Linked DNA regions of Homo sapiens: all the other regions are linked to region 1. Evidence: fine-mapped expression QTL. A gene starts in region 1. Each other region holds a variant in brackets. All regions are shown on one strand. Distances are between the middles of the regions.

Evidence for each region. PIP is the estimated chance that this variant, and not a neighbour inherited with it, causes the effect. A credible set is the group of variants that fine-mapping cannot tell apart.
Region 2: its variant is the best candidate, but not a certain one, in a credible set for the expression of EPHB1 in prefrontal cortex (ROSMAP, PIP 0.59).
Region 3: its variant is the best candidate, but not a certain one, in a credible set for the expression of EPHB1 in skeletal muscle (FUSION, PIP 0.82).
Region 4: its variant is the best candidate, but not a certain one, in a credible set for the expression of EPHB1 in whole blood (TOPMed, PIP 0.68).
Region 5: its variant is the best candidate, but not a certain one, in a credible set for the expression of EPHB1 in testis (GTEx, PIP 0.68).
Region 6: its variant is the best candidate, but not a certain one, in a credible set for the expression of EPHB1 in whole blood (TOPMed, PIP 0.59).

The regions. Positions count from the first base shown.
Region 1 is chr3:134,793,045-134,797,044 of GRCh38, reverse strand. EPHB1 (EPH receptor B1) reads right to left here and starts at 1,785. Exons shown (of 16, transcript NM_004441.5): 1 at 1,356-1,785. The coding sequence starts at 1,413. RefSeq lists enhancers at 1,410-1,599, 1,610-1,659, 1,704-1,998, 2,060-2,269.
Region 2 is chr3:134,898,261-134,902,260 of GRCh38, reverse strand. All of the region lies in intron 1 of EPHB1 (EPH receptor B1), which reads right to left. Among named protein-coding and RNA genes, the nearest start is that of EPHB1, 110 kb to the right of the region's middle. The variant T/A (reference allele first, on the strand shown) is at 2,259.
Region 3 is chr3:135,207,498-135,211,497 of GRCh38, reverse strand. All of the region lies in intron 12 of EPHB1 (EPH receptor B1), which reads right to left. Among named protein-coding and RNA genes, the nearest start is that of EPHB1, 410 kb to the right of the region's middle. The variant C/T (reference allele first, on the strand shown) is at 1,623.
Region 4 is chr3:134,452,824-134,457,871 of GRCh38, reverse strand. No RefSeq gene overlaps it. Among named protein-coding and RNA genes, the nearest start is that of MIR4788, 18 kb to the right of the region's middle. The variant A/T (reference allele first, on the strand shown) is at 2,340.
Region 5 is chr3:135,163,719-135,167,718 of GRCh38, reverse strand. EPHB1 (EPH receptor B1) reads right to left here. Exons shown (of 16, transcript NM_004441.5): 8 at 1,643-1,751; 9 at 713-777. Among named protein-coding and RNA genes, the nearest start is that of EPHB1, 370 kb to the right of the region's middle. The variant G/A (reference allele first, on the strand shown) is at 2,357.
Region 6 is chr3:134,591,866-134,596,913 of GRCh38, reverse strand. It overlaps a transcript of CEP63 not described here. Among named protein-coding and RNA genes, the nearest start is that of KY, 57 kb to the left of the region's middle. The variant C/A (reference allele first, on the strand shown) is at 2,152.

The DNA of each region.
Region 1 (4,000 bases):
GAAGGGAATCTTAGCCGCGCCTCAGGGCCCGGAATGCCCCTCCAGCTTCACTTCCAGAAGGGCAGAGCTTTCCGGAATGGCGGGGGGCACCAAACCATCGTGTTTGGGGGAGTTTCCACTGGGCAACCGGTCACAGTTTCGCGAGGAACGAGTAACAAGCGGAGCGAGCTCCCAGATGGGAACGCTGCGCGGTCGCCAAGAGCTGCTCCTCCCCGGCTTGGAGTCCCCCAGAGGAGTTCCATCCGGAGCAGGACACCGGAAAGTGGGGCTGCTAGCCGGACTGCGGCAGCGCATCACCCCTAGAGTTGGTTTTCTCCCGACAACTCCAACTCCGCTCTCCCGCGGAGCTGTGTTCCCAGGAGGCTGCCGCGGCCGCTGCTAGGCTGCGAAGAACAGAGGCGGGGGAAGGGGCGGGAGGCGGGGAGCTGGGCCGGGATTTCCCACAGGGATTCGCGAGCGCTACCGAGCGCCCAGGCTCCCCGCTGCGCCGGGCACGGTGTCTTTGGAGCGCGCTTTCCCAGCCACCAAGCCGGAGGCACCGCCAAGTCTGAGCTGGCAGAGAGTGACGCTGCCCGACGACTCCCGGCCGCCGAGTATCCTCTCCGGGGTGGTGGAGAGGCTGGGAGACTTTAGGTAGGACCGACCACTCACCCCAGCCCACTCCTGTTCCAAGGCTCAAGAGGCGAAAAGGGTTTCCACCTCTCCCCGACTGACCCTGGAAACCTGCAGTCCCGCAGGCGCCCGGACCACCAGACTGGTCCCCAAGGGTACGGCCAATGAACTCCACCCCTCTCCTTCGGCGGCCACTTGCGGGATACCACGGCAGAGCTTCTCCGGCCCCCGCGCGCAGTGCTTGCACGCCAAGCAGAGTCCACTAGCCCGTGGACTGCGAGCTGGAGAAAAGGAGGTGGCGCGCGGCTGCTCAGAAGCGTATCCGTGCCTGGGAGCAGACGGGCGCCAGTACTCCAGGAGCCGGATGGCCAGAGGCACCCCTTTCTCCCCAACGCCCAGCTCTGGCTCTGCCCCAGAGCTAAGGAGCATGCACCGCAATGCAGCGGGCTCCGAGCTCTCCGAGCGGGGGCTGCGGGAGACCGAGGCTACCAGGGAGTGCCGGGGCGAGGAAGCCGGGGGACTCGCGAGCCAGTTTCGGGCGCTAAGAGCCAGCCGGGGGCGCTCTGGTGGGTGCCGCCCAAGCCCCGCGCTCGGCAGCGGCCGAGGCTCCCAAACCTCCTTGCCCTCGGGTCCCGGGATGCCTGCACCGCAAAGCAGCCAGAGGAACCCCGCGAACCGCGGAGCACAGCAGTCCCAAGGCGGCCGGCACCAGCAGCCAACTTGCTCCGTGGAGGGTACGTTACCTTCCATCGCAGCCACTGCGGATGCCAGGAGGAGCAGTAGTAGATAATCCAGGGCCATCGCCGGCCGACGGCCCGCAGGCCGAGACCAAGCCGAGGCAGCAGCGCCGGGAGAGCGCCGCGTCCCAGGGCGCCGCTGCGCTCTCCGCGGGTGGCTTCTCGGTATCCTTTCGCGCTCTCGCCCGGACCGGACTTCCCGGAGCGCTGCGTGGGCGTGGGCAGGAGTGTGTGCGCGTGGGGCGGTGCGGGCGCGCGTGGGTGTGGGTGTGCATGTGTGTGTGTGTGTTTATGGGAGAGGTGGGTGTGTGCGTGCGTGTGTGAGAGAGAGAGGGCGAGGGAGAACGAGCCTGGGAGAGCGCGCGAGAGCGAGTGCGTCCTGGTGTCACATTGCTAGCTACAGCGGAGCCTACGGGAGGACGGAGCCGGCCAGACTGACGCGGGAGGGAGCGGGATCCCCCACCATCAGCTCTCTCCCCACCCCTAACACCTCCTGTCCAATCAAGGAATCAAACCTGCAAAATTCCCCCGGCCAATCAGGCGCGAGCACCTCCTTACACTGGCATTGTTAGTTTAAGAAAAACTTTTGCTTGCAAGGCTGTGCGGGAGGGCTCGGAAGGCGCTAGGAGGGGTCCGGGCTCCCCCTCGTGGTGCTCTCGGAGAACCGCAGCGGCCCGCCCAACTCACCCTGTCCCCCCATAGGGTGCCCAGCGAAGGAGCTGGGGAGGCCTCGTGCCCTTACATCCCACCCAGGACTGGATCCGCTTTAAATGATCAAACGAGCCTTCGTTCATCTTCTCTGTGACAAGAGCACCCTGCCTACCCTGTTTAGAGCAACTCCAGGGGCGCACCCGTGCCTCTCCTCCAGAGCTCTTCACTCTCTAGCATGGGTTGGTATTTACTAATCGATTTTGTTTATCGTGGGGTCTCTCCCTCATTAAAATGGGGTCACCATTTTCGGATTCTTGTCTATTTTGTTCACTACAGAATCCACAGTTCACAGAACAGTGCCTGGCCTGCGGGAGGCATAGTACATGTCCGTCGAAAGAATGAATACTGTTCAGATAACCTGTGGGCACTTGCTCCAGGGTCCACAGGGAACCGGATTTGCTTCCTGTCCAACGTTTCGCAGTTCTTTTTCTGCAGAAGCCTCTGGTTGCCTTTGGTGTTCACTTCCCAGTGCATTGTGAACTTCCACAGAGGGCCCTGACCCCAGAGGACAGCTCAGCGTGGGGAGACCAGGAGTCACACAGTCAGCTATAAAACAGCAAAGCCTGCAAGAGGGCTCTCCCAGGCCGGTGCAAGGCGAGGTGCACTGTTGCTGTGGGCCAGGCCTTCAGTGTGGGTGGGAAGGACTTAGGCAGCAACTGGGGATGCAGCCTTGGAGATAGGAGCAATTCTCCCAGGCTCAGCTCTCACAGCTACACTTTATCTTCCTGTTTCTGGAGATGGTCAAGGGTTCTAAATCAGAAACTCACCTTGAGGCTGTTATATGTTATGCTGGAGATGTGTCCTTCCCTCCTCTCCCGCCCCCCCTACATACCTGATGATAGTCTGGTCCTACAGGGTCAGGGATGACCCGTTAGGTTCCCCACCCCTCCTCCTACGCCTCTCACCTTGGAGGCACCAATCCTTTCCCCTGGTCTGTTAATGAGCTAACAGTGGGCAGATGCGATATTTCCCTTTGGGATGACTCTCCTTTCTGGGCTTTTCTAAATCAGTTCCCCACACCCCCCACCTCTGCGTGTCTAGTCTCTCCTTTGCTGGGACTTCTTCCTCTCCACCACAGCCAGACTCAAGTCCCCCAATCCTGACAATTCTTTCCTTCCCTGGCTCTGACTCAGGCTGCCTTCCTCCTCCCCTCCCCTCCCTCCTACCCCACCTCTGTGCCTGAAGGGAAGATGTCATCAACCTCCACCTTCTCATCATCCACCTTAATGCCATGTTAGCTGCCCTCTACGCCTCCACACCACCAGCTGTGTCGTGATGTCCCTGGAGCCACCTGATGTCACCCTGGGCAACAACCTGCTCCTAGTTAGCTGTCATCCTCCTGCACCGTCAGCACCTGCTGACATTGGTGTCCAGTAGATCTTTTGGGGCTCTGGCCCCAGTTTCCATGGTCCTGCTTCTCCTCCTACCCGTCTTGCCACTTCTTACTGTTCCCTCTGTTACCTCTTCAGCTTTCAAGAGAGGTATCCCCCAAACTCCATCCTTGGAGTTCGTCCTCCTGGGGTACATGGGCAACTCCTTGGCAGCTTCACTTGCTTTTTTACCCCCAGCCATCCCCTCATGGATGGACAGGTGGATGGATGGATGGGTGAGTTTCACACTCTTCCCTCCCCCTTTCACTATATCACAGTCACTTGGTAGGCATGTCTGGCAAAGCCCCGGCTCTGCCATGTCCTCCTCCTTATGCCCTTGTCCTATGCCTGTGCATCTGACCCAGTGTAAACCCATACTACCTTCCCCTGGACAACTGGAGAGTCTCTGAATGACAGTCCAGCTTCCCTCCCTCCCCTTAATCCCTCCAAACTCTGCTGCCAAACTCATCCTTCTCAAGCCAACCTTGATCTTGTCTCTTCCCTGCATAGCAACCTAGTGGCTCCTCACTGTCTGCTGAAGAGAGACTGACCACTCTAGCATGACATTCA
Region 2 (4,000 bases), 110 kb before region 1:
TCTCTGAATATCTCCCAATAATTCCATCTATCTCTATATCCACTGACATTGCTCCCATACAGCCACAGCCCCCTCTCTCCTAGGCACCTGCATCAGCCCCTAACTACTGTCTCGCCCCCTTTCTTGCACCTCCCAAATTCACTCTTCATCTCACAGACAGGTCGGACTTCTATAAATGCAAATTTGATTATATCTGTCCCTTATGCAAAAGCTTTCAATAGCTGCCCATGGATCTCAGAGAAAAGTACAAGCTCCCTTTCCCTCCTCCTCCACATTGTCACTGTCATCAGCATCACAAATAACAAGTATTGCTCCTTTCCTATTGGCCAGTCACTGGTGCTGAATATGTCACATCCACTCTTTTAACATCCACAACCCCTTTAAGAGGTAGTTACAGGTACTGCGTTCACTTGACAGATGAAGATACAGAGGCTGAGGGAGTAGTCCACATTTCTACAGCTTTGCTCTGTCTCTGCCTCCTGCAGTTCTCCCTGGCCACCCACACAGCTCCCCAGAATTGCCCTCAGTTCCACCCCCATCCTCTCTCATGCCCAAGCTGCACCCATGGCTTCCTTTGCCTTGAACGCCACCATTCCTTTCCCCTGGATGACTCTTCTTGCCCTGCTGGCTGTAGCTTAGAGGCTGCACTCAGTGAGATGCCTTTCCCATATGGGCCACCAGTGGCTGCCAAGCCAGCAGGTGAGAAGCCTGTGGGGAAACCAAACTGGGCCCAAACCTGCCCAAGCCTCCAGGTGTAACTCTCAGTTTGCAGGATGTCCAGGGAACCAAGGAACCAGGAAACAACACCATGGGGATACAATCAGCAAAACCCAGACCCTGGGAAATGCTATAGGACATGTAGCCTGGTTTATCCAACAAATAAATTAAATGAAAAATAAGAAAAAATAAGAAGGGCGAAGGAGCCTAAGGAGTCTTTTAAGAGACAAATCAACCAAGTGTTACGTGTAGATTTTGTTTAGATCCTGATTTAAATAAACCAACTGTAAAACTTTTATGAGACACACAGGAAAATCTAAACACTGACTGGGTATTTGATAACACTAAAGAATTAGTGTTAATTATTTTAGATGTGATAATAATATTGTGGTTATGTTAAAGAAAGAAAATATGTACATATTAATGTAAAAATATTTAAACTATGCTCAATAAAATTATAATAAGATTTAAAAAGTTTTTTTTTTAAAAAGAAGTTCCACATCCCAAGCCCCAAGTGTGAATTAAATTAGGTACTGTATGAATTCTTAGAGTCCCCTAATTTTTCATCAGACCAGTCACCACATTTGCAACTAACAATTTCATTAACATCATTCTTCCCCATGCAACTGTATGCTATGTGAGGACATAAATGTGTCTGTTGGTCCATTGAGACCTTCCAACACAATGTATGCACACAACACCCTCCAACACACACCCATGTGCCTCTCACAACTACATCCACCTGTACCAACACACAAATGCACACCATGTACACACCCATGCCCCCTCACACCTACATACACCTGTGCTCACACACACACATGCACCCAGGTCCTCCTCACACCTACATACACCCATGGCCACACACAAATGCACACCACACACACTTGCTCTTATGTCCTCACATGCTTTTTCCCATCTCTCTGCCAGGTCTACCTCCTCACTGGGCCCCGTTAACCCAGGCAGGAGGGCAGGAGGAAGAGGAGTCATGACATCCTGGAGGCCTGAAGTCCATGTTATTTTAGATGTGTACTTAAAATATCCTGATTTCTCAGGACCAAGATTCTACCTCTCCACCCACCCTCTAAGCTGCCCTACCCACACACCACCAGTCTTATTCCTTGACTACCATTTTATTCTATTTATTCCTGGTTCCAAATCCTTTTTAGGTTATCTCTATTCAGCTATTACTACTACAAAAAAAATAAAAATAAAAAATGAGCAGCCAGCAAGCACAGGCACTTTGCTGGGACCACTAGGAGACCTAAAGATGTAAAAGGTAAGATTCCTGCTTCCAAGGGCCATGGCTTCTCAGCCAGAACAATCTCCATGACAGTCATCATGTCTGAGCACAACTGTGGCCTTTGCCTGCCATGACTCCCCAGCAGCCTATGAGACAGGCCCTATTGTCACATTTCTATAGAAGGAGAAACCAAGGCTCAAGAATCCAAAGCCTCAGTATATACTGCAACCAGAGCCCGCTTCTAACCAGAGTCTTATCTAGCCCCAAAGTCCATTCTCCTACAGTGGTTTAATCACCA[T/A]AGACACAATGACCTCCATAGTCCATGTCCTACAACTCCCAGCCTGGAACAAATCTCTGGGTCCATCAGTCTACTACCTTGCAAACTCACCAGGTATAGTCATGACTCTCTGTTATACCCTTGCTGTGCCCCCACCTGGAAAGCCCTTTTCCTGGAGAAGCTCCTCCAGGCATGGTAGCATGTGCCTGTAGTCCCAGATATTTGGGAGGCTGAAGCAGGAGGATGGCTTGAGCCCAGGAGTTCAAGGCTGCAGTGAGCTATGATCATGCCATTGCAGTCAAGCCTGGTGACAGAGTGAGACCCTGTCTCTTCCAAATAAAACAAACAAAACAAAACAAAACAAACAAACAAAAACAGAAGCTTCAAGTCTAAGAGTGTGTTTTGAGTGGTTGAAAATAAGGAAGATATCAACTTTAGGATGTGATAAACACTATATTTAGAAAGATATTTATTCTGCCTTTTGGGAAGTGAAGGAGAAATGAGGGAGCTTGAGTTGAGGCTTAGCGCTTGAGTAGGAATGTGCTAGTCAAAGAAGCATGGAAGGTCATTCTAGGCAGAAGAAACAGCAGGGCGAAGGCACTGAAGCATGCAAGATCTGGGTGTTTTGGGGGGTCAACAAGCTGCCCAGTGTAGAATCTTTGTGCAATGAGGAGAGTAAAGGAACATCGCAGGCCAATCTCAGGACCAATCTCACTCCCTACCTAGAAGAGCTAGCAAAAACACTCCACAATCCCTGAAGCCCTGCAGCTGAGAAGGATGGTAAAGATGATGATGATGATGAACTTCATGCATCAGGGGTCTAAGGTGTCTTTTCTGTTCCTAACTACTCCTGGGAATTGCCCTGTCAACCCTCAAATGGTGTGAAAAGCCCATGAATCCATGTCTCCTCCTCCACCCCACAGTCCAGCACACTGGGAAAATAAGAAAATAGAAAGTGATAAGTAGGGATGTTTTCCTCATCTATTGGGAGACAATCAAGAACTGACACATGACATCCTCCAGACCATGCCTCCCCGACAGTGCCCTCCACCCCCACTCCCTGCCCTCCAAGTGGAGGCTGCAGAGGTCTTCTGAAGACTGCCTAGAGTCAGAGTTCCAGGGTAGGCCTGAGCTCCAGGCTGGTCCACAGCACACCCAGCACTGCACAAACTTCATTCCAATGTGGAAGGAAAATGTCAAGGTGCTTCCCAAGGCCTGAAAGCTGAGCTCCCCTGAAGGCTGGATCCATGTCCTGAGGATCCCTGGAACTCCTCTGCTTGAAAACGAAATGACACACGTGACAGGGCAGACATTCCCACTCCTGAGCAGCAGTTGTTTCCTCCATAAGCAAACAGACCCTGTACAGACATTGCTCTCCTCTCACAGATGGGTGCCTAGAAAACACAAAATTGCTTCCAGACTACAGATTGTGCCGAAGCCCTGTATCACCTGCTAGCGTGCAGACTCTACCGTCACTTGTCTGGAGTCTCCAGGGAGTTGGGAGCATGGGGGTTGGCCTGCCACCAAGTACAGAGAGAAGCTGAATCAGTGCCATTCGATAGGGCTTGGATTTTAGATGACAGGGTCAGAAAAAGGAGGTCAGGCTCTCCTCCTTTAGATGAAGAGGAGTCAGTGGAGACTGGGCTGGAAATCCTACACACTCAGCTTCTCAGCCCCATCCTGCCATGAGCAGCACTTGGTGTCATCATGATCAAGTGATTTTTTTTCATCTGAAAATGGGACTGTTAATGACATCCATTTAT
Region 3 (4,000 bases), 410 kb before region 1:
CTAAGAAATGCATTGCCAGAGACCTGCACTACAAAAAATGTTAAAGGTAGTTCTTCAGACTGAAGGAATGATGCCAGAGGGAAACCTGGATCTTCAGGAATAAAGGAAGAACAAGAGAAATGATAACTATTTTGAGGCAATGTAAAACATTTTCCTCTTGATTTCTTTAAAATACACATGGCTGTTTAAAGCAAAAATTGTAACATTGTCTTTGGGACTATAAATGTATGTAGATGGAACATATATAACAATGATAACATAAAGAGCAGTGGGAGTGGATGGTTAAATGGATCTATATGATATGATTATGTGGTCTCTACATTTTATGTAAAGTGGTACAATATGAACTCAAAGTAGACTAGGAAAAATTAAGACGTATATATTATATATGCATATGTTACATATTATTATGTTAGTTCTAGAGTAACTATGAAAAAAGTAAATGCAAAGAAGTAAAGCTGAAAATCAAGAATAAGTAAAAGTTAAGTGTCTGCCCATCTCTGCCTGTACATGGGGTGGAGAGGGATGCAATACCACCGCGTCTCTGTGCCTCATCCAAGGGCCAGTAGAGCCAGTGGCAAAGATGACGGCTGATTTGGACTCTACAGAGAATCCTTTGCTGGGCCTTTGAGAGGAAAAGAGGGAAAAGTAAAGCCAGAGAAACAGGCTTTCTAGAACATCACAAATGACCAAAGTTGAGCAGGGAGTCTGGCACACTGTGGGGCCAGAGAGGGAATCACAGTGTCCTGAGCATTGGACTCAGAGTCTGGAGAACGAGATGGAAGGGCCAAAGCTGCCGCTGCAATAGCACGCTGTGTGGCTTGAGTAACTCACTTGACCACTCTGGGCTGTGGATTCCTCATCCAAAAGTGAGGAGGTTGGGTTTATGGCAAATTCTTATTTCTTAATTGACTGTCAGGAGGAAGGGACAATTGGACAGCTACTGTTCCTATCTTATGTACATCTGTATTGGCAAACTGGGCTCCTTCATGTCCAGAACCAGGCTCTTTTCCCATTCTATCCTTTCCCAAATGAAGTACATTTGCACGCACTGTTTTGTTTCTGTTTGTATGCCAACGATGACTCCTAAATGTGCATCTTCATTTGGACTTCTCCTCTATGCCCCAAACCCACATATTCAGCTCCCTATTCAGCAGCTCTACTGTGATATCCTATAGACATATAAAAGTCAAAATGTTTAAACAAGTGTCTCTCAGAATTTTCTAAGTATCAAAATCATATGGAAAATTTTAGTAACAATGAAAAGGTCCAGACTATTCTACTTCAATGAGTCTGTGCCTCTGTGCTCTGTATTAACTCTCCAGGTAAATCTGATACTCAACAACATTTGAGAATTTGAGAATTGAGAATTTGAGAATAACTATTCTGAACCAAACCCACAATCTATTCCCAACTCTTCTACTCCTTCAACCAATTTCTCTCCAGCATCCTCACTCTCAGAGAATGGAGCCATCACCCATCCAGAGGCACAGGCTGGATACTTGGAGTCATCCTCCGCCATCTGTCACTTTCACCTGTAAGTGGCATCTGCTGTCAAGTCCTTCTGCATCACCCCACTAGAACTTCTGGGATTCATTTGCTGCATCCCAGGCCCATTGCCC[C/T]GTAGCCTCCTGATGCATCTTCCTGTCTCTACTAGTGCCTCTCCCACCCATCCTCCATGCTGCAGTCAAGGTAAATTTAAAAATATATATATTTTATTTTGAGACAACTTCAAATATCTATAAAAGTTGCAAGAATACTACAATGAATGCCTGTACACTCTTCCCTTAGGCACCCTATTCCAGCCCAACAATTGTCCTAGAGATGTCCTGTTAAGGATCACATGGTATACCCAGTATCATGCCCCTCAATCTGGAGCAGTTTCTCTGTCTCCTTGACTTTCACGACCCTAACATTTTTTGAAGCGCATAGGCCACACATTCAATAGAATGTACCTCAGTTTTAGGTAGTCTGATGTTTTCTCATGATGAGACCCAAGTTATAAATTTTGAACAGAGTATTGCAAGTATTATGTTCTTTTCATTGCATCCTCTAAGTTGCACAGAATATTTACCTGTCCTATTATTGCTGATGTTGACTTTAATCACTTGATTCAGATGGCATTTGCCAAACTTCTCTGTAAAGTTACTTTCTCCCTCTTTGTAATAAATAAATATTTTGGGGGGAGAAACTTTGAAGATATGTAAAATCCTGTTTCTCTCCTGATGTTCACCTTAAGTTTAAGCATCCATTTATGTTTCTTATCTGAATTAGCTATTAATCTGATGGTTGCCAAATAGTGAGTTTCTAACATCATCATTCTTTCCTCTACAGGGAAGAGCTTTCTCTTGTTTCTATTTGTTCATTTATATGCATATTAGTGTGGACTCAATAGCCCCCATCTTATTCAGTAGATTATAACTTGTTACTATTATTATATATTGTGAGGCTCAAATTATCCAGATTTGGAGGCCCTTCAAGCTGGATGTTGTTTTTGTTGTATGTTCCCATTATTCTTTGAGTACTTTCTCATTTTCTGGCACAAAAAAAAGATGTGTTGGTCTCATCTCACATTTTCCCTCTCCAGGCCTTGGAAGGGGCCATGTCTCTAATGAGTCCTGGTTGCTTTTAGGGGAGTATATGGAATCCAAGATCTGAGAGCCAGCTGTACTCCTTGCTATGTAGATGTTACTGCTTCAAAGCCACTCTCAGCCTATATTTATTTCTCCATTTCTATATATTTAAAACCACCGGTTCACACTAATACCTCCAATTTTGATTCCACAGCATACAATTCATTCTAGCTTTTATGCTTTCCATATTTATACCTCTGTTCCCACAGTTTCCATTATTTCAAATTTATTTTTAAATCTCCCTGTATATAGCTTGTCTCTCAATCTTGCTGAGCCAGCAGCCCATTCACACATGGGTCCTGATCTCTGCTAGGGCTTGCCTCCCTTGTTTAGAACATCTACCCTGGTTGAGTCTGCTTAATGGCTTTTTGGTGAAAGAAAACAGGAAGAAATCCAAGAAAGTTATTTCTAAAGAAGGCAAGGAAAGATATTGGAAGGAAAAGGCTAAGGAAAAGCCAGGCTATTTTTCTAAAATTCAAATCCATCACTTTCGGGCCACACGTGTGCATCTCTCTGTGTGCACAACACACACACACACACACACACACACACACACACACACACACACACACACGTCATGAAAGGTTTCCCATTGCTCTAAGGCTGCAACTCCTATCACAGCGTTTGGGGAAGATCCTACATGATGGACTGCTACAGGCCTCCTTGGATGCTTCCTCCCTAAATCTCCAAATGCCCTAAACAGGGGTCCCTTCTCAGTTCCACTCCATCTTCCCTCTTGCCACAGGGCCTTTGTATATGCTGCCTCTCTGCCTCTGAAGTCCGACCTGCCACATTTAGTTGGGGCAGAATGCTGTAGATTGAATGTTTATGTGTCCCCCAAATTCATATGTTTAAGTCCTAATAATCCCCAATTGGGTGATATTTGAAGGTGGAGCCTCTGGGAGGTGACTGCAGTTAGTTTATGTCATGAAGGTGGAGTCCCCAAGATGGGATTGATGTGCTTTCAAAAGAGGAAGAGGCAAGATCTCTCTTTCTGTGCACATGCCAACAAAAGGCATCTGAGGACATAACCAGGAATAGAGCCCTCAATAAGAATCCAACCATCCCTAGTTAGCACCTTGATCTTGGACTCCCAAGCCTACAGATGACAAGAAATAAATGACCGCTGTTTAAGCCATCCAGGGTGTGGTAGCTTGCTATGGGAGCCCAGGCTGACTAAAACAGTGACTGTTCTTTAAGTCTCTGCTGTAGCACCATCTCTTCCTCTGCAAGCCCTCCTAGACACAGTTAGGCAATTTTGTTATTTATTGTTTTATGCATGCTCTCGCAAAACATAGCGGCCCTTATTTCAGCTGGTAATTATGCACTCATTTGGGCATGTGTTTGATTAATGTCCCCAGTCCTCA
Region 4 (5,048 bases), 340 kb after region 1:
AAACACAGCCTGAGATCTGCTAATTAGCACCCTTCCCTGTAATTGCTGGTGACTATTGGAATTATCTGATCAGAGCTATGACAGTATTTCCCCTTCCTTGGCATAGAGATGATTTAGGAAGCACATCTTGATAGAGAAAAAAGCTGTAATTTCTGATGTTGGCTATACTGTCCCTCATTAGCTAATGGTTCTATGACAGAAGATAAAAAATGATCTTGACAGGCAGGAATAATGTGTCCCAAATTGCAAAATGTAATTTAGAAAGAATGTAGGCAGTGCCCTACAGTTAGGTTCCAGAAGCGCCCTGCGGAGGCTCAGGAGGCTGAGGCCAAGGCTTCAGGAGTGCCAGATCCCATCCCAGCAAGTCTCGGATCGACTGGCCATGCTTGGACAAATGACTAGCTTCACTGGACTGCAGTTTTCTCATCTGGAAAGTGAGAATCTTAAATGGGTGATTTTTCATGTACTTCCCAAATTAAAAACAATTGTTTGCCAACAGTAGGAGGATAACCTAATAAATCCTCATGATAGAATATCAGGCAACTATTGTAAGTCCTATGTTTCCCAAGAATAATTGATAACCTGAGAAAGTGCTTGCTACATCATGTTAAATTAAAATAAAAAGTAGGGGGGAAAATTAAATATGGATTACGGTTCAAAGGTTGCTAATAAAAATATATGCCTGAGAGAGAAAAAGACTAGAAGGAGGTGCAAAAAGTATTAGCAATGTTAGCCATGGGTGACTTATTTTTTATTATTTGAAGCACTTCAAATTGTATGTATGATTACAAAGGCAGTAAGTGTTGGATTAGAAATTCCAATCATGCATGAGTATAAAAAGTAAAAATTAAAGTTTCTCCTCTCACTTCCATGGCCATTCCCCAGTTGTAACCTCTGTTAACACTGTGAAATAAATAACATCTCACCAGGTATGAAGCTGAATTTCCTAAAAACCTCCTTTGTTTCAGGCAGTCTGCAAAGAGAAGCTAGAGACGTAGTTAATTCTTCTTAGTAGTAGTAGTAGTATTTTTTTTTTTTTTTTTTTTGAGACAGGGTCTGGCTCCATCACCTAGGCTAGAGTGCAGTGTCGCGATCATGGCTCACTGCCACCTCCACCTCCCAAGCTCAAACCATCCTCCCACCTCACGGGGTGCGCCACCACAGCTGGCTAATTTTTTTGTATTTTTAGAAGAGATGGGGTTTTGCCATGTTGCCCATGCTGGTCTCGAACTTGTGAGCCCAAAGCAATTTGCCTGCCTCAGCCTCCCAAAGTGTTAGGATTACATACGTGAGCCACCACACCCAGCCTAATTCTTATTTTTTTCACTGTAACTTAATGACTTTCCTAAACTACCTTCAATAAATACATTGTTTTTCTAACAATAAATAAAGGATGATATTTCTATGAGGCGGGTTTCTAATGAAGCAGAACTGAGAGATATAGTGAACTTCCCAAAACAAAACTGCCACAAGTGTAGGTAGGTAGGGATGGGACCTCTGGCAGGGATGCTGTGCTGAGTTAAATGACCAAAGAGGAAAAGGGTTAGAGGTTTATGGTATAAGAGGTGCTGGAGCACGTCCTGGCCCAGCCTTTCTAGGTGGTGGAGAGGCTGGCAGAGTGAATCGAAGGAGCTATATCTTGTGAAGGTAGGAAAAGCTGGAGTGGCTCCTGAGACCAGACTATGAAAGAGAACACCAACCATGAAAAGCAGGTACCGTGACATGTTACACTGAGAAAGCCAGGACAAACACATTCCTTAAAAAAAAAATTAATTTCTTTTTCCAAAAATGAAACAACAGACATGATTTTGTTCTCCCCCGACTCCCCTGTGCATTCAGAGTGCCTATGTTTTGGTCCCTAAAAATAAGGAAAAATCGGGGAGGGTTTGGAACATCCTCTAGTTGTTGCCAGAAGGTAAGGATGTTTTCTGGGATATTTGAGGCAGTGCTGATAGAACAAGGAGCTGGCTTGTAGGGCCTCCCACAGGCTGAGCTGGGACACTGAGCATCAAATGGGGAATCATAAATGTAACTGGTTCAAACAGTTCGGGCTTATGAAAAGCCAGAGGACAATAATACTCAAGAAAAAGTTAATATTGAGACTACAAATGACCTGGTTAAAATAAAAAAAAAAACAATGAATATGCAATGAATATGATACAATAGATTATTTTTAAAGTAATTTTAGAAGACATGAAAGAGAGAGACTTTGTGTGCATACCTATATACACACATACACATATCCACACACCTATGTACACATACATAGGGTTATTTTATTTCTTCTGTTAAACAGATATTTATAAAGTAAAAATAAGTTCTTCAAGTGTAAATTTTTT[A/T]AAAAAACAGAAATTGTGACTAAGCCAAGGAAAGCCAGAAAAGTAAGTTGCTGTTCCAAGAACAAGACCCGCTGACTGGTACCAGAGGCCACAGACAGAGCCTCGTGGGAGGAGGCCCAAAATTGGCCAGCCAGGGTGGTCACTCACAGTAGCCAGTTACAAAGAAGTCAAGTGTGGGTTCCAAGATAACAAAGGAATCAAATGTCCCGAAGATGATGCTGACTGGCCCGACTCGACTTCAAGCTACTCATAAAGTTACACCTGCAGGGATCCTAACCAAGCCCAAGAACCACAGTGGCAGGGCAGAGGGTCAGGAAGCCAGTGTGCAAACCTTAGGGGTCAATCATTTCTGGAAAGACATCTCCCTTCCGAAAATTAAAATCTGCACCAATTCCAGGGAACTAAAAATTAAGCTAAATTATCAAAGGGCTTCAGCCTCAGCCTGACCCCCGGAGACTGGGATTTAAGGTACAAGTTCCTGGTCCTACTCAAGAATTTACAGCTCACATCCCACAATCTTGGCTACTCTAAATGAGCGATTGTTTTTTTCCTTTGGGGGTGGAAATCCTAGGAAAAGAACTTAAATGAGAAATTAGAATAAAAGAAAGAATAAAGATACAAGCAGATAAAATAAATAAATCTAGGTACTAGCACTTTAATAAATGGTTTCAACATAAGTTTAATAATTAGTGTTATAATCACTGTGATATTTGGGTTGTTTTTAAAAGTATTTGAAGCTTTTAAGAAAATCTGATATAATGGATTTTAGAATATGATAAATATCTAGAAGATTAATAATTTGCAATCAATTGGAAGCTTTTAATCAAATAAAGACATTTCAATTTATAATTGTGTGAATATTGTGTGAACATGTTGAGAAATATTTAAAGTTAATGGAATGCTAATTATTTGATAAATTTGGAACATTAATGAATCACTAAACAGGGTGCAAGAGTAGTAATTCTTCATCATCCTCAAAAGCCTTCAAACATTAAAGACTTGTTTATGCACATGCTTGGAAGCCAGATATGGCCGTACTTTGTTAAGGACACCATTGGCTGAATTGCACCAGGACGTGGGGAAGGAGAGGAGTGGAAAATCCACCTCCATCCTAACCAGAGGAACCCCTGCCGCTGCCATAGGCAGCCCCCTGAACAGAAGGCTCAGTCTCAGCTGGTCAAGTTTTTAAATGTGACCAGTGGTGTGACACCCTTCTGTGGTGAGAGTGGCAACAGAAGCAGCAACAGCAACAGCATGGAAACTTCATACATCTCAGAAGCATCAGATGTGATGCTTGATCTCTGGCTTCTGGAATAGGTCTGAGTTCTGCTTTCACCCCAAACACCATGCAGTGTTTCTACCAAAGATGAAACACAGTAAACACAAGTTAACAGCCTGGACACTTCTTGGTTTATCCCAGCAGGGTAGACCCCAGGAAGGAGGAAAAGATGAGTTGGGATTGGAGACTTGAAGTCTTCCATTGGAATACTGCATGAAGAAATATGATCTTAATTGTACCCAAGCTGCCGAAGTGGGAAATATTGGTTACTTTTAAATCTGTGGCTCAGTTGAAGTGCTGTTGTTTTATCCCCTATTCACTTTTATCTCCAGCTAGCTATACCCCATTTCTCCTCCAGAGGACCCCCTCTCCTTCATGCTCAGTACCACTCTGTTCCTGAAGCAGTTGTTCCCTTCCCCCTGCTCTACCACGGGAATGTAGTCTGGACTGGCCAATCAGAGCATCGCGTTTAAACTCTGATGTGAGCCTCGTGCTCTGGGGACAACCAAGTGGGAGGCTAGAATGAACCCAACACAAAGGAAGGCTGAGCCAAAGACTGGGAGAACCAGCCTCTGAACTTTGACTGTCCTGGCGCATGGACTTTTCATTTAGATGAGCCCTTAAGTTCCCCTGTTGACTTAAACCAATTTGATTTGGATTTTCAGTCATTTCTTAATGAGAATATCCTAATGGATATAAGTGTATCTGAGGGCTTCTGAGGATCTGGAAAGTTCACCAGGGAGAACAGCTGAGGTGATGTTATCCTGGGGAAGAGAAGACTCTAAGACTACAAGCTAACTCTCCTCAAATATCATGCTAATGAATGTTACTGGAAGATAAATTCAATAGGTAGATGAGTTTTCTAATAACTAAAGTTGTTCAACAAAGGAACCGCCTTCTTCAGAAGGAGATGAACTCCCCAGCCAAGGATGAACAACCACCTGACAAGGACATTGGCACTGAGATTCATTCACTGGGTGGGAAGCATGAATTTCAAATGACTCTTTTGACACAAACAGTTAACAAAAAGTAAGAGAAGAAAAACATCACTAGGGAAAATAAGTGGAGGTGCTATAAAACTCTGCAAAACCCTGGTTTAACCAATGAGAAGTTTTGGTGTAGTTTTTTGAATCCGACTTGATCTATAGCCCCCTGCTGTTTAGCAAGAGAGTTAACGTGGAAGTCAGAGATAACACTGCGAAGAGAAAAGGCCTAAACACTTCTCTCTCATATAACATGAACTGTTTAAATGGGGATTCTGTAGCTGTGGTGGAATGCCAAGTGCAAAACCAGTGTTGGAGGAGAGACCTGGTGGGAGGTGTTTGGATGAGTGCAAAACCACTCAGCCACCATGATAATGAAATATTATGGAAGGGACCAGCCAGAAGCTTGGCAGGAATGAAGAATTCTAGATACACCTGCATATATGT
Region 5 (4,000 bases), 370 kb before region 1:
AGAATTCTGCTTTCTGGAGGCAGGAAGGTGGCCCAAATGACCTAGAGAGACCTTTCTCAGATCCTGCAATGTTGTCATTATACAGATGAGAAAATGAGTGTGACAGGGAACTTTATGTTGCACCTTGGTGAAAAGAAATTTTAGTTATAAAAATATTATAAATATAGGTTTATAAAAGAGAGAGGATAATGAGTGAGAAAAACTTTTAAAGGTACTGCTTAAAGGAAAACACTTGGGAGATATCCCAGCACTTTGGCCTCTTGGGCTCTGCTATCTTTTTAATTCCCTACCTTCATGTTCTATGGCTTATCTGTGAATTTGGTTAACAAATTCCCCAGCTGCTCAATTGGATAAGATAAGGCAGAAGATGTTAATAGAGAACTCCATCTTTTCCCACTGAGTCTGATTTGAGGATTCATTGACTTGCTAAACCCAATCTTTTCCCTGCATTTTGTGTCCTATATGGGCTTATCAGTGCAGACAATAATCTACCCACCAGGCATCCAATGAGTACCCATGACAGGTAGACGGCAGATGGGAGGGTAGCCTGTTGCCCCTGGGGACCTGCAGAAAGGTGGCCAAGGCACTGGGGGCTGAGAGAGAACTTGCCACTGGGACCAGCCAGTCTGGCTATAAAGAGAGCTCTGAGCACTAGCCCACTTGACTCAGTGGCCTGTGGGGGTCAGACACCGGGTCTCTGCTTTCTACTTACCTCGGCCTGTGCTGTAATGCTGGAGCTTATCGCTGTACACAGCCTCTTTGCTATAAGCCCGTTTCCTGTGGATAAAAAGAGGGGCTCTCTCAGCCACAGGGCACACCCACCAGTCTGTTCCAGGTACCTCCATCTAGGCCCCAGGCCAGATAGGGGCTCACCCGGGGCATCTCCCAGGATTAGGGACTGGGCAACTCTCACTTCAGCCCTCCTGCTGCAGTTAGAGCTCTTGTTGACCACCACTCACTCCTGTGGGCAGATGGTTCTGCTTTCCAGCCAAGGTCTTGCAGAAGCCTGGCGGGACTGTGGGACCCCATTCAGAGGGCAGTGCTGATGGGGGCAGAGGTGAAGAGGATGTCCATCAGCACTTAAGCTACATTGCAGAACTGCTTGGGAGGGAGCCAACTACAGGGCTTTGCGTGACAGAATCTGGGCTAACCACTGAAGGCAGTAGCAGCAGTATTAAAAAATCACAAGGCTTTCGGGGCCAGCTTTTCTGCAGAACTCAGAGTTTCCCTTTCCTCCTCATCTTCTCTCCTGCCAGCCTGCCTCCCTCTTGCTGGCTGCTGAGAGCCTGAGCTCTCTTAACTGGAGGATGGGTTATGCACAGGCTGGATGCTCCAGTGAGTCAAATGCAATTTTGCAACTGTCACTCTGAAAAGCCATTGTGTGTAAGAGGGGGCTAAAAGTCTTCGTTAAAATGAGGTTTGAGGATGGATGCTGTTTACTCATAGCCTTGCCCAGCTCTCATATGAATTTTTTCCCAGCTAAATAAATATCTAAAGAATTCTAGGCTGCTCTTGGATTGAGATGGAGTGATGATTGTGGTCGTGAATGGTCACACCCTATCTGATCCACGCAGCCTGGGAAACGGCACATGGAGAGGGGCTTCCTGGGTCCAAGGAGAGCAAGTGAGAGTGGAGGACCTACCTGCTACAGACGATAGAGATGGCCACCAAGGACACAACGAACACGACCCCGGCCGCTGCCGAGCCAGCAATCAGGGGCAGCTGCTCCCTCAGCTCTGACTTGTAATCATCTAGGTGAGAAAGAGGCATTAGAATCCTCCCCATGTGCCTTTTGCATACAGCTGATACTCAGTGCACAATACCAAAAACATGATCTAAATATACATATATGTAGAGGATAGTTTCTATGTGTCAGAGTTGTAAGTCTAACCAAAACAAACAGCAATTTTTAAGTTATAAATAAACAAAAACAACCAAAAACAAAGGACAATGAAAACAAAACAGCCGTGACAGAATCTGGGAACTATAGCTGATGACATTCCTGGAGCAGAGATGATTTCCAATCTACATTCCCTCAATTGGAAGGTCTCTCGAAGAACTGTCAGCCATGTTAAGGACATTCCAATGAAGGGGACTTATCTAAATGAAAACCACTGCTGAAATATCTTCTAAAGCATGAAGTTATGAAATGGCACAGAGTCAATAGATTCATTGAGCAGATACTTAAAGAGTATCCGCAGTCAGCCAGCACTACCTCCAGGCACTGTGGAGGACAAAGAAATGCCTGAGAAATGAATGGCCCAGCACTCTGAGTTCCCGCTCAAGAAGAAAATGATCAAGGCTTCTGCCAAATGTTAGAACCATGCTGAATTATGCAGTGGAATGGGAAGCCTAC[G/A]GGTCATAGAGGCAGACAGAACTCATCTAAACCCTGGCGTTACCATGTGCAAGCTTTGTGATACTGGACACACGATTTAGTCCTTCTGACCCTCACACTTCCTGTCTGTTGAAAAAAATCAAATCATATGAAGCACATTTCACCCTGTCTGCTCTATCATAGGTGTCCTAAATACCAAATCTCTTTTCTTTAATCTATACAAATAATTTGGGCCAGCTGGCTAGTATTGGTATTGTCCTGGTTATGCTTTCACTGGTGTTAAAGAACTATTACCTAATGTTCAGGACCTAGGCATAGAGAAGTCAAGCTATTTATGTTCTATTACAATTAGAGTTGCCAGCTATAGCAAATACGAATGTAGGACTGCCAATCACATTTGAATTTCTGATAAATAATGAAAAAGGTTTTAGTATAAGTATGCCTCAAATATTGCTTGGGAGATACTTACACTAAAACATAATTTTTGTTTGTCTGAAATTCAAATTTAACTGTTCATCTTATTTTTTATCTAGCAACCCTAATGACAATACTTCTTTTTTTTTTTTTTTTTTTTTTTGAGACAGTCTTGCTCTGTCACCCAGGGTGGAGTGCAGTGGCACAATCTTGGCTCACTGTAACCTCCGCCTCCCGAGTTCAAGCAATTCTAATGTCTCAGCCTCCCGAGTAGCTGGGATTACAGGCACATGCCACCACACCCGGCTACTTTTTGTATTTTTAGTAGAGATGGGGTTTTACCATGTTGGCCAGGCTGGTCTTGAACTCCTAACCTCAAGTGATCCACCTGTCTCGGCCTCCCAAAGTGCTGGGATTAGAGGTGTGAGCCACCATGCCCACTGACAATACTTCTTAAAGTGAGGTTTCCCATGAGCTATCAGAATTACCTGAGCCCGACTGTTAAACATGACTGTTTCCAGACCCCTCCTCAGATCTACTGAATCAGATCCTCTGGGTGAAGAGCAGGGTATCTGCATATTTAACAAACAGTCCAGGTGATTCTAATGTTCCCCAATGTTTGAGAACTGTCCTTCAACCATGTTGGAGGAGAAAGATTTCTAAGAACAAGGATATTGGTTCTTGAAGCCTCCCATTCTCTAGAATTTTAAAGACGGAAGTCAATTTTAAAGACTGAAGGAAAATTTTCAGTTGCCCTCAGCTGAGACTTTCTGTAATATATGTATTTAAAACATAAAGTTGGCGATAGAAAAATACACAGGGAACCCCAATGAAGCATCCTTAACAATGTCTTTATAAATTAAAAACTTCATAATGTAATATGAAACTTGAATGATTTTTTAAAAATTAGGCAGCTACGTCAAAAATCAGAACAGTGTAGCTAAGAGCAGCCCAGGGCCATAGTGGGTCTGCCCTATGTGGAGGTTACCAGCCCAAAGTGTGGCCATTGACTCTGGGCAGGATTCCACAGGTCCTCCCTGCCCCAATGACCCTATCATCGATCAACCTTCTGACTACCTTCGCTCTGCAGACAGGCCTGCTGCCCCAGTGAACATAATCCGTACCCATGTGTGAACCTCAGTCGTAAGACAAATACTCCCAAATTTGGCCACTTACCAGAACTCTCTTACAACCAGCCCCTCTTGGGTTTGCAAAACTTAACTGCCAAATGTAAAAGAAACAGCCTTCTTG
Region 6 (5,048 bases), 200 kb after region 1:
ACTCTGTCAGACCTTCCTAGTCCTCCCACTGCCCAAGCCATGGGGAATTATCTGCCTATCTTCCATGTTCATGTCACACTTTGTTGCTCATCTGTTAACCCAGAACCTTCTACAAGATTCTGGGATTCAGGAAGTACTTGGAGGTTCTGCCCCTAGGATGTGAATTCCTTGAATATATATGCTTTGGTTCTGCTCCTCGGCACACAGTAGGTGTTTGGTAAACGCTTGGCAAGTGTTTCACTGGGAAAACTAAGACAGACTAGGAAGACAGGGCCAGGAAAGTACTACTGCCTAGCAGTCCATAACCATCCACTGAGCATTTGTCAAAGCATGTTCCCATTTCACCAGGTCTAGCCCTTGTGTTTTTGCCCAACTCTGTATGCCACATACTGGACATTGAGGAGGGGAACCCAAGATTCTCTCAGAGGAGGGCCACATCCTGGGGAGGGCTGGGAATGTGGGGTGAAGTAACCACCCTGGAGGAGGCTGAGGATGCAGCTAACAGTGGTCTTCAAAGGAAGAGGCCCTTTACCAAGTCCAGCATCTAAAAGAGGACACATACTGACTACTTGGAAGATAGAACAAGTCCTGAAAGTAGGACTTGGTCTTGACTAGAGAAGGATGGCCACCCTGCCTGTAAAGGTGGGTAGCAGAGGGTTGTCAGGCATTCTTTGGCTGTGAACAGTTTTAATGGAATTTTCTTTCCTTTATCTAGATTTGTTCCCGCTCCAAATTTTCCCCATGGCCCTGTTTGAAGATTATATAACCTAAGCTTGATGCTTCTATTTAACCCAGAGTGACATAAAAATTTAGCTGAGGGCACCTGCTGATCCCATTCCCACCCACCCACCCAGAGACCAACAAACAAACCTTTCCACGGGAAAGCTTCTAAAGCCCCAGAAGAACCTGTTTTCTCGGGAAAGAGCTGCAAAATGGCAAATATAGCTATTTAGGATCTAAAGGCATTAACATCTTCTACAGCAAAGCCTGAGTATGTGGGGCTGTCTTGAAGACCGTTGATATATTGGAAAGTAATGCTCCAGGGAACACTCAAACTCATGGTTTCTTTGAGCACAGTTGTCCTCAAGGCTGATCCTCTGAAGAGGAGCCCCTGCAGGATGAAGTGTAAAAAAGACAAAGCACCACGAAGTGGTATCCAGTGGTATCCAGTGTATCCAGTGGCAAAGCCAAGCCATGAAGGATTGAGAATGAGAAGGCCACCTAGACAGGGCCCACCAAGAGATTCCCTCTCTCCAATTAAACCAGCACTCTAGATGTTTAGTCATCATTGCCAGGGGTACTGGGTTTAGACAGATTCTGAGGCCACAACTGGGTTCACTAGGAAAGAGTGTCATGACTAGCTAGTGATCCATAGACAATGGATTGAAGGGTGAGGTGTGCCATGTATTTGCCAATCCCAGCTTAAAGGTAGCTAAATCAGGGCTCAGACCAAAATAATGAAGGAGACTGTTTAGTCCGTTCTCACACTGCTAATAAAGACATACCCGAGACTGGGTAATTTATAAAGGAAAAAGATTTAATTGACTCACAGTTCAGCATGGCTGGGGAGGCCTCAGGAAACTTAACAATCATGTCAGAAGGGGAAGAAAACACATACTTCTTCTCATGGCGGCAGCAAGGAAAAGTGCTGAGCAAAAGGGGGAAACACCCCTTATAAAATCATCAGATCTTGTGAGAACTCACTCACTATCACGAGAACAGCATGAGAGTAACCACCCCCATGATTAAATTACCTCCCACTTGGTCCCTCCCATGACACGTGGAGATTATGGAAACTACAATTCAAGATGACATTTGGTTGGGGACACAGCCAAACCATATCAGAGGCTATTCAGACCAGTGGGGAGCACTGGCTTCCCATTAAGCTAGCCCATGGACTGACAACCAGTCAGCTTTCAAACCAAAGGTCCCAGGATGTGCTGGGGGCCTCCTGACCTCACCTGAGCTCCAGGAGGATTCCACGCAACATGCATGCCACCCAGCTCAGAGGACACAAATGCACACAGGCATATCAACTCTAGGGAGAAGGAGCCTAGGCTGAGTGTGTTTGCTCTTTTATCTCCATGATTAAACAGTGCCTTGCATTTAGAATAAGTGATCAGTAAATTTTTGAAGTGAACATTGCCTTGT[C/A]ATTTCAAAAACAAAATGATAGATCTCTGGGTTGTTTACATGGCTGTTGACCAAAACAGCTGTTGAGTTACAACATCCTAAATAGTCATTTCCTTCTTTTGCTCAACTAGGAAAGCATATGCACAGCAGTGTACTCCTTTGCCCCTGTGGGAAATGTATATTTACAAGAGGAGAAAAATTGCCACCTGGCTGGGAGTGCTCATGGTGTTTGCCTCTGGGAAACAATCAGTGCATGGGCAACCAATCAATGGGAGGAGTGCCGTTCTTCTCGGGGGAATCCGCCCGCCCTGAGCATGTGCCGAGATTGCTTTGTTTCTATCAGGGGGAATGGCTGACTGCCTCTGTGACACAACGAATCAGCCATCATTTCGCCCTGGCTGTGCAGGGACCAAGGCAGTGACGTCCCCCTTTATGGTGGCAGGGGCAGCTATGGAGAGGCTGGTGGCATGAGGGCAGAGGGGCAGCCACAACTGTGAGTACACAAGAACAGCTGGGCTGAATGACTGACGAAGTGCAGATATTAGGAGTGGGGAGCCCCTGGCAGCTCCCATCTGGGTAAAGGATGGTGGTGAGGAAAAATGAGGAAGCGTTTATTTAGAACAAAATGACGGTGGGATTACAGATTTCCTAGTGAACACTTTGCTCATATTTATATTTGTATTTGAATGTATGTGAACACCAAGGAGATCTGGAAATTAACATCCACCATTTTATTCTATTTAAAAAGTTAAATGAAGCCAAGATACTGGCAGCACTTGAAGGCTGTCCCCTCCTCCTATGCCCTTTGGGATAGCCCCACCCTAGGGACTGGGCAAGTGTGGGTACCATGAACCTTTTGGCATTCATTTCATGAGTATCAGATCCCCTTCTCCATCTCCCAGGAGCAACACAGTGGAGAGAACACGTTAACCTGATTGTGGGAGGGCATCCACTCTGGCAGTGAAAGCTTCACTTGACATTTTTAAAGCTCAACAAGAGTGTTAAAGTCTATCTTTAAAAGAAGTGAATGGGCTTCCTCTGGAAAGATGGCCTCTTAGCCACTGGTCCCCTGTTAGACTGAAATCTGTCTTGTGTGGTCAGGAGCCATTAATGTGTGATTGAAGCCTCGAGTTTTCCTCTATACACATTGATTTCACTTGGAGAAGCCCTGTGGACCCCTCCTCCTCCTCAGCGTTGGCAGTCATGAGCCTGGGGAAGCCTGTGGCTCAGCCCCTGTTTGACAGCAGGTAGGAGAGTGTGCCAGCTAAGAGCACACACCTGGAGCTGACCGCCTGATTCCTAACCCCAGTTCTGCCAGCTCCCAGCTGATTTGTGCAAGTTACTGAACCTCCCTGTTTTTGTTTCCTCATCAGTAAAACAGGGATACTCATAGCACCTACTGTGTACACTTCTTATGGGGATTAAATGAGCTAACATATGGTACAATGACTAGAAAAGTCCCGGGCACATAGTAAGTACTCAGTAATTATTGGCTACCATCACGATGCATCAGTCATCATCAGCATAATGAGGATGACACTGATGTATTGTTCCCTAAGGAATCCAAAAGTCTCAAGCCCCTCATAAAATTGTGGCAATCACTGATTTCAATGCAGAAATCCCATATCCAAGACGCAATCACCCAGTCTTTCCTAGAATCCTTCCAGGGACCAGGAGCTCTCCACTCCATGAGGCAGCTGTCCATTACTGGACACCTATGTTAAGGCCTTACCTATACAAAACTGCCTTAAATTAGGGCAGCTGAGCCAATCCACCCACTGGGCTCAGTGAGTTGTCTATTATATGATGGGACAACCATGTAGTGGGAGCCCGGAATCACCAGTACAAAGCCTGGCTCTAGTCTGAGGGTTCCGGGGACTAGGTAGGAGCAACTGCAATATACTCAGACACGGAAGGGAGCCAAAAGAGCAGATGAAAAGAAAAAGAAAACCTTCCACTCGAGAGAGCTGTAAATCAACATACGAAACCACATGAAGAAAATTAATAGTTAAAAAAATTAATGAATTGTTTTCAAAAATACAATCTGCATACTGAATGGTGAGACCACCTCAAACCCTGATGTTATTTAACTCCCCAAACCTGGCTGGCTGACTTTTGTCCTCAAAGCAAAAACTGGAGGGTATCACTGAGAAAACAGATCAACCTAAGAAAAAAGGCCTACAGGTACCATCTGTAACCACCACCCCAGTGAAAAGACCAGCACCCCATTTGCCCATCTTTGGGAAGCCAGTCAGTCAGTTCCTCCATACACACACACACACACACACACACACACACACACACACACACACACCAGTTTGCAGATGGCATTTGTGGTTGTTTGAAAAAATGTCCATGAATTCTTTGGTGCTCCTACATTCAAAAGGAAGAGCCTAATTCCCATCCTTTTATGTGCAGGCCATACTTAGTGACTCTCTTCTGACAAATAGAATGTCGCAGAAATGATGGTGTGTGACACTCAAAACTAGGATATAAAAGGCATTATAGCCTCCTCCTTATTCTCTCCAGATCACTTGCTCTCAGCAAAGCCAGCTGCTAGTTGTAAAGATGCTCGAGCAGCCTCTGGAGAGGCCCACATTTTGAGGAACTGAGTGAGTCCTCCTGCCAACAGCCATGTGAGTGAGCTATCTTGGAAGCAGCTCCTGTGAGGATTTTGCAGCCCTGGTGAGCTTCTTGACTGGAACCTCATGAAAGACCCAGAGCCAAAACCACCCACTTTAGCCATTCCTAAATTCCTGACCCTGAAAAATTGTAAGGTCACAGAAAACTTATTATTTGAAGCTGCTAAATCTGGGGGTAATTTGTTACACAGCCGTAGATAGCTAATAGAGCATTTTAGTATCTCAGTCTGGTTTTATTTTATTTTATTTTTTGGGGGGACAGGGTCTGGCTCTGGC